3 separate regions of the Homo sapiens genome follow, and regions 1 and 3 are each linked to region 2. Evidence: fine-mapped expression QTL. A gene starts in region 2. Each other region holds a variant in brackets. All regions are shown on one strand. Distances are from middle to middle. Region 1 has its middle 4.7 kb from the start of ELOVL3. Region 2 holds the start of SLC68A1 (solute carrier family 68 member 1). Region 3 overlaps ACTR1A (actin related protein 1A).

Evidence for each region. PIP is the estimated chance that this variant, and not a neighbour inherited with it, causes the effect. A credible set is the group of variants that fine-mapping cannot tell apart.
Region 1: its variant is the best candidate, but not a certain one, in a credible set for the expression of SLC68A1 in whole blood (INTERVAL, PIP 0.50).
Region 3: its variant is the best candidate, but not a certain one, in a credible set for the expression of SLC68A1 in whole blood (TOPMed, PIP 0.67).

Annotation. Positions count from the first base shown.
Region 1 is chr10:102,218,947-102,224,169 of GRCh38, forward strand. No RefSeq gene overlaps it. Among named protein-coding and RNA genes, the nearest start is that of ELOVL3, 4.7 kb to the right of the region's middle. The variant C/T (reference allele first, on the strand shown) is at 2,980.
Region 2 is chr10:102,459,118-102,464,340 of GRCh38, forward strand. SLC68A1 (solute carrier family 68 member 1) reads left to right here and starts at 2,278. Exons shown (of 10, transcript NM_024789.4): 1 at 2,278-2,333. LOC124902493 (a long non-coding RNA gene) reads right to left here. Exons shown (of 3, transcript XR_007062270.1): 3 at 1,676-2,943. RefSeq lists enhancers at 1,797-1,866, 1,994-2,677, 2,678-3,360 and a silencer at 2,137-2,356.
Region 3 is chr10:102,488,843-102,494,065 of GRCh38, forward strand. It overlaps ACTR1A (actin related protein 1A), which reads right to left. Exons shown (of 11, transcript NM_005736.4): 2 at 1,707-1,771; 3 at 221-296. Among named protein-coding and RNA genes, the nearest start is that of ACTR1A, 11 kb to the right of the region's middle. The variant A/C (reference allele first, on the strand shown) is at 2,155.

The DNA.
Region 1 (5,223 bases), 240 kb before region 2:
TAAGGCTAATTTTTTTCCTTTTTGAAATGATTTCATTAATAGCTGACATATTTATTTTGCAACAAGCTACTTACAATAAAGGAATAATAGTCTATTTATGTATTACTTGTGATTGGCCCTTTACTGCAAATAACAAATGCCACTAAATGCAAGCATTTACAAAAGGTTTACAATCCAGTCTACAATCATCAGAAACCTGCTCTACAAATCACTGCTTTTTTTAAAAAGTATTTAATCATTTTTTTAATTGACAAGTAAAATTGTGAATATTCATGGGGCAAATAGTGATGTTTTGATACATTATAATGTATACTGATCAGATTGGGGCAATTAACATCCATCATCTGGAACATTTATCATTTCTTTGCATTGGGAACATTCAATTTTTTTAAAAAGCTGGTTTTCATGGGGAAGAAAACCACACTTATTAATATTTTCTGTGTCTGGTCAAGTACTCTTTATATATAATTAACAGTCTCAGCTGGGTGCAGTGGCTCATCCCTATAACCCTAGCACTTTGGGAGGCCAAAGAGGGAGGATTATTTGAGCCAGGAGTTCAAGACCAGCCTTGGCAACATAGCGAGAACTTATCTCAAAAAAAAAAAAAAAAAGCTGATGTGGTGACACATGCCTGTCATCCTAATTACTTGAGTGGGTGGATTGCTTGAGCCCAGGAGGTCAAGGTTGCAGTGAGCCGTGGTTGCACCACTACACTCCAGCCTAGGCTGGACAGAGTCTTGCTCTGTCGGGATCTCCACTCACTGCAGCCTCCACCTGCCGGGTTCAAGTGATTCTCCTGCCTCAGCCTCCCGAGTAGCTGAGATTACAGGCATGTGCCGCCACACCTGGCTGATTTTTGTATTTTTAGTAGAGATGGGGTTTCACCACATTGCCCAAGCTGGTCTCGAACTCCTGACCTCAGGTGATCCACCTGCCTCGGCCTCCCAAAGTGCTAGGATTACAGGCTTGGGCCACCTCACCTGGCCTTTTTTTTTTTTTTTTTTTTTTTAGTCTTCCCAGACACTGATAATAGATAGGCATCTTTCAAGCTGATCCCCACTCGAGTTTATAGGTGGTTTGACAGCTGCCTCTCCTCAACGTTGCATCTGTTATGATGGTTTAATTGTTGAGTCAGAGCCAGTGAACATTTATATTTCCTACCAACTACCTTGAAGTAAATATCTTGGGAGCTGCTGGCCTGGAAAGGTTGTGAGAAGGCTCCTGGCTTCTTCTTTGTCTCACTTAACATTTATTTTAAGGTCAAAGCAATATCTGCACACTACTTTCTCTTTGGTCCCCCAGATACAGTGAGCCCCTTGGTCCAGTCCTCTCCATGTCCTATATGTAGTTTCACCCTAGATCAGATTTTGTGTCTTGGTTCTCAGACCAAAACGGGAACACTGCATGATTGTTTTCTGGAGCCCATCCATCGTGGATGCCAGCCTTGTATCCACATAGGAGTTGAAGCTCCTTTTGTATTGTATTTCCTGAATCACCACTAAGCGAATACAGTCTTTTCTCATCTAGGCTGGGGATGTTGAAAATGCTCAGCCTTCTATAGAAATTCTTAAGTTCTCATTAACACATTTCACAAAAGGAAATGAGTATTATTTGACATGGTTCAGATGGTGTTTTAATGGTCAGCATTTGAATAAATACTTGCATTATAATTTGTCCCTTTAAAAAAGTTGTAGCTGAATGTAACTTATTAAATGTTCAGTGGAATGTAAAAATATATATATATTAATACATACAGATTTTTTTTTCTTTTGGATTATTTCACTGGGTTGAATTCCTAGGTGAGACACTGGGTCAAAGCATACCAGCTCTTGCTAAGTGTTGCCTAAGTGTGTTTCTACAAGGATTATATCAGTTTACTTGGCCACTAGCCAGGTGTGATTGCACCTGTTTCCTAAAGCTTTGACTGGCATTAGGTATTTAATTGCTGCTTAGCTATTAATTGGGACCACACTATACATACAGTCTTTAATTTGCATTTCCTTAATTACTAAGAAAGTTGAGTCTTTTAAAAAAATGTTTATTGTTTGTATTTCCTCTTAGGTGCCTACTCAATTCAAAGCAACAGACATATTTTGAGTGCCCACTATGTGCCAGGTAGTATGTGCTACCCTCAAGGATGAGTGACCTAGTGAAAATGACCATTTGGGATAGGGTGAGGGAGCCAGAATAGTACAGAAAATATATGACTGACTGTCCTCCACAAGTAGAAGCACAATACTGGCAGGCAGTTTGGGCAAAGTTTTTTGAATGAAAGACAAAGAAGGAAGGGCCTGACTCTGAAATATATTAGGCTTTTGCAGGGCAAGTGACTTTAGAGCTAGAGCTAGAGTTAAGATTTGTCCAGGTGAGAAAATGATGTATGGGGGGAGAGGGAAAGATGCGTAGAGAGGTAAAGGGGTAAGTATGTAGAGTTGTCCATTATGGCTACAATGCGGAATGCTGGGGGGAGAGGGAAAGATGCGTAGAGAGGTAAAGGGGTAAAAGTATGTAGAGTTGTCCATTATGGCTACAATGCGGAATGCTGGGGCTGAGGGATGGTGGGATTTTGGCTGGAAATGAATGGTCAGGGCTAAACTCAGGAATCTGATCTTTGTCCTGAGGATTATTTTTGTTCTTAATGAGGAATGACATGAGCTCATGTGTTTTAGAAAGACCTTTCTGGCAGCAAATGAGAGGCAGATTTGGAGACACTGGAGTGTATGAAATGAGCTTGTTTGTATCCTTAGCCATTTACCAAGGGTCGAAGATAAGACTATGAATAAGATTTTTGTGTAGTATGCACATTAACCCTTTATCTGACCTACTTAAAACAACATTTCAGGCCAGGCACAGTGGCTCACGCCTGTAATCCCAGAACTTTGGGAGGCCGAGGCGTGTGGATCAACTGAGGTCGGGAGTTCGAGATCAGCCTGGCCAACATGGCAAAACCCCGTCTCTACTAAAAATACAAAAATTAGC[C/T]GGGCGTGGTGTCGCACGCCTGTAATCCCAGCTACTCTGGAGGCTGAGGAAGGAGAATCGCTTGAAGCCGGGAGGTGGAGGTTGCAGTGAGCCGAGATCGCGCCACTGTACTCCAGCCTGTGCAACAGGAGCGAGACTCCATCGCAAAAAACAAACAAACAAACAAAAAAAGAAGGTAAAAATGTCGCTTTTTTTGTAAATAATTACTGATGCTTACTCAACTCTTTACATTGTATAATGCTCTTTATTTATTTATTTTTAAATTGAGACAGAGTCTCACTCTGTTGCCCAGACTGGTCTTGAACTCCTGGCCTCAAGTGATCCTCCTGCCTTGGCCTCCCAAAGTGCTAGGATTACAGGCATAAGCCATCATGCCCCGCCAATGCTCTTTAACATATATTATTTCATTTGATCCTCATAAACATCCTTCTGAAGTAGTTATCTCCATTGTACAGATGAGAAAGCTGAGGCCATGATATGTTTGATGATGTCTTCGCCAAGGTTACCTAGGTAGTAAGTGGCAGAGATAAAATCTGAATATAGGCATTCTGATGACCATGCCACCTCCAGAAGAAATGACAGGACCTTGTGTCCTATAGAAGAATATAACTTGACCTCACAATTTCTAGCCTGAAAAATTATATAAATAGTGGCTGGAAAAATCAGCCTATTTTGGAGGTAGATAACAAATTCTGTTTGGGGTGTGTATTGCTAAGGATGCTAGCAGAACATACCGGTAGAGATGTCCAACAGGCAGTTGGAAATAGGGAGAGAAAGAAGTTGGGTTGAGAACTCATAGACACAGAAGGCAGCTACTTGGCACCAGGTAATACAAGTGATTGGTGTTCTATAAACTTCCAAAGCCTGCTCAGTTATTCATCTGCTCACACCATCCCATGCTTAGCGCTTCTTCCTCTATGTTGAGGCTTTCAGGAGGGCTACTGGGGAAAAAAAACAAAACAAAACCAGTGACCACACAAAAGATAGGCTTGGAGTATTTATCCTGGAGAATAAATAATGTCACTCAGGTTTACATGCCAAGGATTTCATCCATTCAATCACTTGCGCAACAAATATTACCTGGGTTATGCTCAGGGTTAGGAGAATGATGAAAAAAACAGACATATTCCGGCAGTGGCTCATGTCTGTAATCTCAGCACTTTGGGAAGCTGAAGTGGGCAGATCACTTGAGGTCAGGAGTTCAAGACTAGCCTGGCCAACATGGCGAAAACTGTCTCTACTAAAAGCACAAAAATTAGCAAGGCGTGGTGGCACACATCTGTAGTCCCAGCACTCAGGGGACTGAGGTACGAGAATCGCTTGAACTCAGGAGGCAGAGGTTGCGGTGAGCCAAGATCAGGCCACTGCACTCCAGCCTGGGCGACAGAGCAAGACTCTGTCTCATAATAAAAAATTTTAAAAAATAGACATAGTCCCTGCATTCATGGAGCTCAAGAACTAGTAGGAAAAACAGGCATTGATCAAGAAATCACAAAAACAACTAATTATAAACTCTCACTGAAGAAAAGAAATACCATGCTCTGAGAACAGTTTATATAAAATAAGGGTACCAGACCAAGTCCAAGGGTCAAGGAATGTTTCCTCTAGAATATAATTTCTGAAGATTTTTCCTCTTCTTTTTTCTTTTTTGAGACAGAGTCTCGCTCTGTTGCCCAGGCTGGAGTGCAGTGACACAATCTCTGCTCAGTGCAACCCACGCCTGCCAGATTCAAGCAATTCTCCCTGCCTCAGCCTGCCAAGTAGCTGGAATTACAGGTATCCGCCACTACACCTAGCTAATTTTTGTATTTTTAGTGGAGATGGGGTTTCACCATGTGGGCCAGGCTGGTCTTGAACTCCTGACCTCAGGTGATCTGCCCACCTCAGCCTCCCAAAGTGCTGGGATAACAGGCGTGAGCCACTGCACCTAGCTTTTTTTTTTTTTTTTTGAGACAGAGTCTCACTCTGTCACCCAGGCTGGAGTGCAGTGGTGTGATCACAGCTCAGTGGCACGATCACAGCTCACTGCAGCCTTGACCTCCCTGGCTCAAGTGATCCTCCCTCCTCAGTCCCTGAGTAGCTGGGACCACAGGTGGGCGCTACCATGCCCAGCTAATTTTTGTACTTTTTGTAGAGATGGATTTTCACCATGTTGCCCAGGCTGGTCTCAAATTCCTGGGCTCAAGCAATCCCCCCACCTCAGCTTCCTACAGTACTGGGATTACAGGCGTGAGCCACCGTGCC
Region 2 (5,223 bases):
CTGAGTAGCTGGGATTACAGGCACACGCTACCACGCCCAGCTAATTTTAGTATTTTAGTAGAGATGGGGTTTCACTATGTTGGCCAGGATGGTCTCGATCTCCTGACCTCGTGATCCAACCACCTCAGCCTCCCAAAGTGCTGGGATTACAGGTGTGAGCCACCTTGCCTGGCTGTGAGGGACCAAAGGTCTTTTCTCCTGGGTCACATCCAGCTCTGGCCCCTGCCAGCCCTCCCCATTTCCATTTCCCCACTGGATACCCAGGGAGGGCTAAGTAAAGACTCGGGTTTGCTTTGAAATAAAAGCACATGCTGGCCACAGATAGAAAGGCGGGGAGACTCCTTTAGCAAATGTATGGAGATCCCAGTGTGCCGGACCCCAGGCTGAATGCTGGGTTTTCTGTTCTCACAGCCAGGAAAGCACAGATGGAGGTAAGAGGTGAGGAGAGGGACAAAATGATCACCTGTCTTCTACTCATGAGGCTTTCTGGATCAGGAGGAGTTTCAGCAGTTGTCTAAGTCTAGAAGAGAGATGGTTGTATGTATGTGTGTGCGTGTATGTGTGGCTTGGGGTGACATGGGAAGTGTGAAGGGTGTCCGAAAGAGAGAGATTGGGAAGGAGGGAAATGAGACAGGTTAGTGGGAGATGGATTCTGGGGGCAAGGTTCATGGCATCCCTGGGGGCTCCTCAGGAACTGGTTGAATAATCTGTAGCCCCTGGACACTAGGCGTCTACATTGGACCATTTGCTGTGGTTGTTAGGAGGAGGACAACATTCCTGTTGCAGGAAGTTAGCCGACAACCATCAATGAAGGTCATAAGGATGAGCAGTTCACAAAGCTCCTACACCCTTGTTTCTCATTTAATGTCTGAAAAATCCCTGTAAAGCATAAAACAGACTCACAAAAGGAGGGTCCCAGCCAGGTGCAGTGACTCACGCTTATCATTCCAGCACTTTGGGAGGCTGAAGCGGGAGGGTCCCTTGAGCCCAGGAGTTCAAGACCAGCCTGGGTAACATAGTGAGACTCCATCTCTACAAATAATTCTAGAAATTAGCCAGGCATGGTGGAGTGAGGTGGTGGTCCCAGCAACTTGGGAGGCTAAGGTGAGAGGATCATCTGAGCCAGGGAGGTGGAGGTTACAGTGAGCTGAGATCATGCCACCACTGCACTCTAGCCTGAGCAACAGAGCAAGACCCTGTTTCAAAAAATAATAATAAAGAAGTCCCTTAGCAAAGAAGTGTTGGAGCTAGGGGTTGAGTTCCAAGTCCCCCATAAGGCAAAGGCCACAGGCTTTTTGCCCTGTGTCCCAAGGTAGGGGAACCAGGCAGAGCTGGAATGTGTGCTGTTTGCTTGCCCAAAAACCTATCCAGGCTTACAGGCCAATTGGGAGAAAACATAAAACATCCTCCACAGCCTACATTGAGCCAAACAAAACTTGATTTTGAGGGATTGTGCAGGTGTGGGAAGAGGAAAGACTCTTGTTATGGGAGTCAGGATAGCGGGTTCCACCTCGACTGGGCCCTTGCTGTTTGCGTGTCATTGAATCTCTCTGAAATGCAGTTTCTTCACATATAAAATGTGGATAAAAGCGCCTACCTCCTAGGAATGATGTGAGGACTCAACAAGAGAATGCACGTGTTGTTCTGAATGTAGTACGGTGCACATAGCAAGCACTCAGTACTCCTTAGGTTTTATTATTGCCGTTATTAATACAAAGAGGTTGTGCTGCATGGTTGCTCATTCAGGCCCTGGTGGCTGTTTCCCACCTTCAGCCCTGGCTCCTGTGGCTAGAGCCCTGGTGCCCACAGCTCAACCTGGACCTGTCCACCCTTGAAGGGCTCATGATGCAGCATCAGGGAGTCCCAGATCGAGCCGCTGACACCTCCAAGTCGGCTGCAGCTGTGCATCCGCTCAGACCACAAGACTCAATGGAGGATGCTGACCTCTCTTTGTTCTCCCAACGAGTACTAGGCAAGGAGGGAAGGAAGGTGAGCGCTTAGAAAAAACGTGTTGGTTTCAACTGAAATGACATTAAGCTATCGTGGAGGTAAAGGAGAGGGGTTGAGCCGGTCAGGAATCCAGGCAACCTGACCCTATTTGCCAGTGTCCGCTTTTAATTTTGGTCGCTAAGGGCAAGCGCCCGTGACAAACATGGCGGCGGCAGCCTCAGGCGCAGTCACCTGCCGGAGCTGCGCCCGGGGGCCGCGCGGAGCCAATCGCTGGGCGGGGGCGGAGGGAGAGGCTGGGGAAGCCCTAGAAGTGCGCGCAGGCGCATTGGCTCGCACCTGGCTCCCGCCAGCCGTGGGATTAGGCTTCGCCGGCTACGATTGCGGTGAGACGCTGGCCAGCGGCCGGGGCTCGCGGGCAGGAGCGGGCTGGGCTGGGGCCGATCTGGCACAAACGACAGACCCGAGGGGGAGGGGAATGCTTTGCGCTCTGGGAGTCATGGGGGCTATCTGCGGGGGTCTTTGGGGTGATCATATTGTGGATTGGGAGAGTTGTGTGGTCCGGGCGGAAGAAGCGGGGTTCAAGGGGGCAAGGGTGGAATCCTCGCAGAAAGGCTCTCCGGGGGTCTGGAGGAAAGGGATGCAGTGGGTCAAATAGCTCCCTGGTGGTCTGGGATCGAGGGATGCACTGGTCAGGTCGGGATCCGTGCCATTAGCATAAAGGCATTTAACCCTGGTGGCACTTGGGGAGCTTTGAAAAACACCGATGCTGGGCCCGCCCGAAGAGATTCCGATTTAACTGTTCTGGGTGAGGCCTGGGCCTCGGTATTATTGCACAGCTCCTCAGGTGATTTTAACGTGCAGGCGGTGGGGAGCAGCCCTACACGTGTTTCAGCACCAGCTATTGAGTGAAGAGCTCCTGGGCTGATCCCAAACTCCTCAGTGGCTTGGGAGGGGTGGGTGGTCCTGAGGTGAAGCTGTCGCCTCTTCTGGGACCTGTGGGGGAGGGAGAGGGAGAAGGTCCCCATCTCAACAAGTTGAAAGCTCATTTCCAGCCGGAGGAGGAGGATGGGCCCCCACCCCCCAACCCTGGTGCTAGACCCTGCTGTGGGGAGACTGGGCAGGAAGACAAGACCCCGAGAGTGAAACAGGAAACACAGCAGACAATTCAGGGGTCAGCTGCCTGTTGAGAAAAGGGCACATATTATACCTTTCATGTTCATTTGTTCATTTGGTATTCCTGAGGATAGGCAGAGAATGGAATTGTTTTCTCTGCTTCACAGATGTAGGAATAGACTCAGATAGTAAGTTAAAGATAATGTTCACACCTGACCCAGGGCTCCTGACTCCAAATTATGCCTCTTCTTAGCTTTTACCTCTGCACTAATGTCTCTTGTACAGTCTGATACCTCTCACTCCAGGGGCCCAGTTCGGCATTCTTGGTTTCCGCCACTAAATTCATCAACCTCCCCCACCCACCATAGGTTGGTTCAGAAATCAGGGAGATGTTGCTGCTTCCATCCCTTTCTAGTCTTTACCTACCAGGGGCCTGGTAGGGTGAAGGGGAAGAGTTTTGACACCTGCTAGAGGGCTTCTTCCAAACAGATCTGTCACTTCCCCACCCCCAGCGCCCCACCTGTTGTCCTCAGCATAGAATCTTGCACAAGGTTTACAAAACCCTTCCTGATGTGGCCCCTTTCTCCCGCGCTGCTCTGAGCTCTCTTCCCAGATTGTTTCTGTGTCTCTTAGCACAGTGCTGTGCACCCGGCGAAAGCTTAATAAATGTTCCTCTGTTATGATCACTATTCTTCTTTGTACCTGCTGCCTTGCTTTAGTGTCTTACTCAGAGAGGCACATCAAGCCTCCCAGGCTGCCCCTTCTCTCTGACTCCCACAGTTAAGCAGAACACAGAGCTAGGAGGGGCACAGTGGGGTCTGAAGATGACAGTTTTCCTATGACTGCTGCTGCTGTTCCCTAGGGCTGAGGATGTTGTTGATATTGACCTTTTAGGGGCCAATCGACCCAGCAGGGATTGACTGAGCAAGCTGAGGGAGCCTGGTGGAGGCAAAGGGCAGGGATCAAGGGCGGGACTAACCCAGCCCTGCTTTTTTTTTTTTTTTTTTTAAGAGACGGAGTCTCACTCTGTCCTCCAGGCTGGAGTGCAGTGGCGCGATTTCGGCTCACTGCAAGCTCCTCCTCCCGGGTTCACGCTATTCTGCCTCAGCCTCCCGAGTAAGCTGGTACTACAGGCGTGCCCGCCACCACGCCTGGCTAATTTTTGTATTTTTAGTAGAGAGGAGGTTTCATCGTGTTAGCCAGGATGATCTCGATCTCCTGACCTCGTGATTCGCCCGCGTCGGCCTCCCCAAGTGCTGGGATTACAGGCGTGAGCCACCGCGCCCGGTATCAGCCCTGCTTTTAAGAAGCCTGTGGGCTGGAGGAGGGGAAGGGAGGCATTTGGATGCCTGATAAGGGGGAAAACGGGAGAGAACACGTGATTGGGTGTGCTTGGGAAAGCCGTGACACTGGATGAGCAGGATTTGATAAGATGGGGGCAGGGTGTGGGGGGGATGATGAAGTGAGAACGCTGTTGTTTTAGTCAAAACCTGTTTTGAATCTTGACTCCAGCACCTACTAGCTTTGTAACTTGGGCCTGTTATTTAATCTTCAGAGCCTTGGTTTCTTCATGTACAGAACGTGAATGCAGATAGTAACAGAGCTGTAAGGGGTCTGATGATGGATATAAAAGCCAAGCATACCCTGTATGGCTGAGGAATAGTATATAGTTATCCTAGGGTATCTTAGGTGACAGGAACAGCATGAACAAAAGTGTGGAGGTGGCATTTAGAAAGGAATTTGATGGATGGCAGACAAGAGGGGCTAGGATATTCCAGGTGGCAAAAGGCATAAAGCTTGGGTGCTGGAAAGACAATTTCAATCATGGATTTGGCAGAAAGGTCAATGATTTTTATTTTTGATTGATGTTGCCCCAGCTGGTCTCTAACTTCTGGCCCCAAGTAATCCTTCTGTCTTGGCCTTCCCAAGTCCTAAAATTACAGGCATGAGCCACAACGCCCCACCTAGTGACTGATCTTTAAAGATCATGAAACCACACGGTGGCTCTCGCCTGTGAGCCAGCACTTCAGGAGGCCAAGGCGGGCGGATTGCTTGAGGTCAGGAGTTCAAGACCAGCCTGGCCAACGTGGCGAAACCCCGTCTGTACAAAAAATACAAAAATTAGCCAGGCATGGTGGCGCACGCCTGTGATCCCAACCA
Region 3 (5,223 bases), 30 kb after region 2:
CCCAAAGTGAGGTCCCAGGTATTTTCTTCTCCAAGACCACAGGCTGTTCCTGGGAAAAATAAACCACCTAAGCCTAGGATGAGAGAATCAAAAAGGAGATTTTCAGAGAAAGTTGCCCCTTTTACTTATGGGTATGTCCAAATGTTGGGACATGTTCCATGTGGTGAATAATGAAGGTCCTCTGCTGGCTTAAGGCTTGTTCTGTAGGCCTGGGAATTACCTCAGCTTTGGGGCCAATGAAGATGTCGCCTTCAAGGGCTCCTGCCATGACACGAACGTGCTTGGGTCGGCCCACACTAGAAAAGACAGTGAGGAGGACCATCATTTTTCATTTCATGACAGAACACAGGAAGGATGTATAGATGTACATACACACTCAAATTCTACTGAGATTATCTTCAAGGAGTGAAGTCACAGTTGATTTTGATTTTCTTCTTTATACTTTTCTGTATTTTCCACAATTTCTAAAATGAACATGTATTATTTATATATTATTTCATATTTTATATTTATTATAAATTATGAAAACAAATTTTTAGAGTATTTAATACCTCTAGTTCTTCTCTTTCTGCAGTGTATGAACAGACCAAGAAAGATGAGGAAATGAGAATTTCTAAAGGAGTGATTAACTCAAAACATTTTAGTGTCCTTAGTCCCCTTCCCAGGACCTCTAAGTAAAACTGATGCTGGGCTGGGCTCGATGGCTCACACCTATAATCCCAGCACTTTGGGAGGCTGAGGCAGGTGGATCATTTGAGGTCAAGAGTTTGAGACCAGCCTGGCCAACATGGTGAAACCCCATCTCTACTAAAAATACAAACATTAGCTGGGCGTGATGGCACATGCCTATAATCCCAGCTACTTGGGAGGCTGAGGCACGAGAATCGCTTGAACCTGCAAGGCAGGAGTTGCAGTGAGCCGAGATTGCGCCACTGCACTCCAGCCTGGGCTACAGAATGAGACTCCATCTCAGAAAACAAAAAAAACTGTGATGCTATAGATCGGACAGATAGCCTCTTCCTTTCCTCCCCCTTTAAGCCCTTCCTGTAAGCCTCTGTGCTCTTCTCCTGCCTGCAGTCTCTCTGTCTTAGGAGGAAAGTTCTGAGAAACTCCTCATTAAGATGGTAGAAGGGCTGTAATCCCAGCACTTTGGGAGGCCGAGGCAGGCAGACCATGAGGTCAGGAGATCAAGACCATCCTGGCTAATACGGTGAAATCCCATCTCTACTAAAAATACAAAAAAATTAGCCAGGCACGGTGGCAGGCGCCTGTAGTCCCAGCTACTCGGGAGGCTGAGGCAGAATGGTGTGAACCCGGGATGCAGAGCTTGCAGTAAGCCAAGATCACACCACTGCACTCCAGCCTGGGCAACACAGCGAGACTCCGTCTCAAAAAAAAAAAAAAAAAAAAAAAGATGGTAGATGGGTTAAATGTTAATCCCCAGCCTGGGTGATAGGAGAATTTTAAAAGGAGGGCTCCACCAAGAGGCAATCCTCCAAAGCAATAAGTTACCAATGATAAAATTTTTTAGCATCAGATAAAATTGGATTTTTAAAAAGAGGCCTCTTATCTGTGCCTCTCAAATTGTACCATGTAGACAACTGTTTTCCTTTGTTGACTCCAAACTCGGCTCCTGTCCCTTATAGGGCTGGGCCTGTAACAAAGCTGATGAGCCTCCAAAACGTCTAAGCTACAGAATGACTTACTAGTTTGGAAAGCAGTATTTGGGGATCTGATCACCAGCAAAACCAGCTTTAATCACACCGGATCCCTGAGGAAAGAGGAGAGAGAATGAGGAGTCAGAACTATCACAAATACAAAAGGAAAAATACATTATATGGTACCATTTTTATTTAAGAAAAGAAAGCGGCCGGGCGCAGTGGCTCACACTTGTAATCCCAACACTTTGGGAGGCAGAGGCAGGCGGATCACTTGAGGTCAGGAGTTTGAGACCAGCCTAGCCACCATGGTGAAAGCCTGTCTCTAGTAAAAATGCAACAATTAGCTGGGCATGTTGGCAGGCACCTGTAGTTCCAGCTACTTGGGAGGCTGAGGTGGGAGAATCACTTGAATCTGGGAGGCAGAGGTTGCAGTGAGCCAAGATTGTGCCACTGCACTCCAGCCTGGGTGACAGACTCTGTCTCACAGGAAAAA[A/C]AAAACAAAACTAATATTTGTATATAATATATACATTTATTTGAACCTAGAAAAAGGTAAATGCACACCAAAAGAAGGGAAGTGGAAATAGGATGGTGAGGAGGATTCTCACTGTATACACAACCGTATGTGTGATTTTTCTGTAGTCTCTGACTTTTCTACATTGAACATGTTTTGCTTTGGGAATTAAAAATACTAGTAATAAAGGGAAGAAAAAGACAGAAAACCTGGGGAAAGAAGAAAGTACCTAGAAGCATCAAAGCAGCCAAGTTCAGGAACATAAGGTAGGAAAAGCACATGACTCCTTGTTACGCCACCCTGGGGTGCTTTTAACCTACTTTCCCAGCTCAGGCCTGAACTCTCCCAGCTTCCAGGGCCTCTGTGACAGACACCGCCATGAGCACTGTCATGCTTGAAATGGACTCCCATGGAACACGTGCTGTCTGGTTCTTATTGCAAGGGCAGAGCACGATGCTTTGGGAGATTTTTGTTGTTGTTTTCTTTTTAACTATGCTTTCCTTTTACTCCTTGGTCTCCTGATGGTAAAGAGAAGCAAAGACTAAAGCCTACTCTGAGAATAGAAGAGAACCACAGTCCTGCTGCTCCAACACTTGGTATGTCGAGTGAGGTGTCCAGAAAAGAATCTGAGTTCTCCCAGCATCTCAGGTACCACCCAGGGCCCAATCAATGTAAACAGTGACTCTGGACACAGAGACCAACCCTGTGCAGGACAGATGTCAAGGCTTAGTATTGCTTGTAGATACACCCTGTCCTCTTCCTTTTTTTTGAGATGGAGTCTCGCTCTGTCGCCCAGGCTGGAGTGCAGTGGTGCAATCTGGGCTCACTGCAAGCTCTGCCTCCCAGGTTCATGCCATTCTCCTGCCTCAGCCTCCTGAGTAGCTGGGACTACAGGTGCCCACCAGCATGCCTGGCTAATTTTTTTTTTTTTTTTTTAGTAGAGACAGGGTTTCACCGTGTTAGCCAGGATGATCTCGATCTCCTGACCTCGTGATCCGCCCGCCTTGGCCTCCCAAAGTGCTGGGATTATAGGCGTGAGCCCACCGTGCCCGGCCTTTTTTTTTTTTTTTTTTTGAGACAGAATCTCGGTCTGTCACCCAGGCTGGAGTGTGGTGGCACAATCTCAGCTCACTGCAACCTCCACCTCCTGGGTTCAAGCGATTCTCCTGCCTCAGCCTCCTGAATAGCTGGGATTACAGGCGCGCACCACCATGCCTGGCTAATTTTTGTATTTTTAGTGGAGATGAGGGTTCACCGTGTTGGTCAGGCTGGTCTCGAACTCCTGACCTTGTGATCCACCTGCCTCGGCCTCCCAAAGTGCTGGGATTACAGGCATGAACCACCGCGCCTGGCCTCTTCTTCCTTCTTAACTCTTCTACCACCACACCTGATACCCTCACCTTTCTAACCCAACATGGTTTGCAGCTGCACCCGTAGCTGGGGCAAGCCTTTTCCTGCTGCCTGTTGACCACTCTCCTGGGGTGGAGTGTGGTATTTACTGACCTCATTCTACAAGCACTGAACACACCTGGAGACTCTAAGTAGCCAAGGTTATCTGCACCAAAGGCTTCCCAGCAACATGCCTGCTTCCCTCCTTGACTCTCTTATTCCTGCTCTTCTGCAGGAAGAGGGGGAGTGAGACTGGCCATCTGGTGCTTGCCTTTGGCAAGACAGAGGTTGGTGGAGGAAGCAAGTGGTTGAAGGAAGCCAGGTGTGGTGGCTCACGCCTGTAATCCCAGCACTGTGGGAGGCCGAAGCGGGGCAGATCACATGAGGCCAGGGAGTTCAAGGCCAGCCTGGCCAACATGGCAAAACACTGTCTTTACTACAAATACAAAAATTAGCCAGGTGTGCTACACGTCTGTAATCCCAGCTACTCAGGGAGGCTGAGGCAGGAGAATCACTTGAACCCAGGAGGTGGAGGTTGCAGTGAGCCAAGATCGCACCACTGCACTCTAGCCAGGGAGACAGAGTGAGACTCCACCTCAAAAAAAAAAAAAAAAAAAAAAAGAAGTGGTTGAAGGGCAGAGAAAGTGGTATGAGAGGAGAGCAGGGCAGCCAGTTCTCTAAGGGAGCAGGAATCTTTGCCAACAGAAGAGAGTGAAAACAGAAGACAATGTGCAAACTCATTGGACTGGGCAGTACAACAAGGAGCCTGGAAAAGGTGCAGCTGTCAAGTGAGCTGAAAGACTGGGAAGGAGGGGCAATTTGCCTACAAACCCAAGGGCTCTGAGAGCAAGGCACGGACAGGCAAGGGGGGAACTCCTAGAACTTGTTTGCTCAGGCTTCCAATGATTGCTCACTGCCTTCATCTGGGTGTGGTGATGCCAACAGACTAATTGGGTCTCCCGGCAGAGGTTAAAAACAAGAGAGGATGAGATCTGTCCTTCAGACCCTGGATATTTTTAAGAGATGATTTTCCTGGGTATTTTATTTTTAGTTTACTAGCAAAAGGACTAGAGTCTGGGTAAACAGGCAGATTATGAAGTCAGATTTGTTTTTTCTTCTCTGTCCTTCCTAGCAAAGAGTATAAAAAGCCCAGTTCAAATATCATCACCTTCCTCCTGAAGAAACATCCCCAGTTGGAATGAATGATCATCTTCCTATTATCTCACAGCAAATTTCCATTACCTGTACCACGAGGTGGCATGCACTTCATTCTGCTTTTTATTACAATGTAAGGTTTCCACTTTCGTCTCTTTTCAGTTGAAGTTCCTTAAGGCTAAAATACATTTTGGCAGTATCTGGCATTTGCTGGGTACTCAACAGATGCTGGCTGAGTAAAATTAAAATCAAGTGCAAATGACTGGCAGATAGAACCTAAAGTATGGAACCTGAATGACCAGCTGAAATGACAGAAGCCCCAGGCAGAGGCGGTTCAGCAAAGGGGAAAGCAGCACTGGGAGTGATGCACAAGGTGGAACCAGACCCAGCGTGTCCTTGCAGCCCCCAAGCAGGCCTGCCATGCCAGTCATAGGGTGAAGAATCAGTGGAGAATGAGGAGCAGCTGAGCTGCCTCAATTCTGCTCAAGCCACACAAATTCTGCTCAA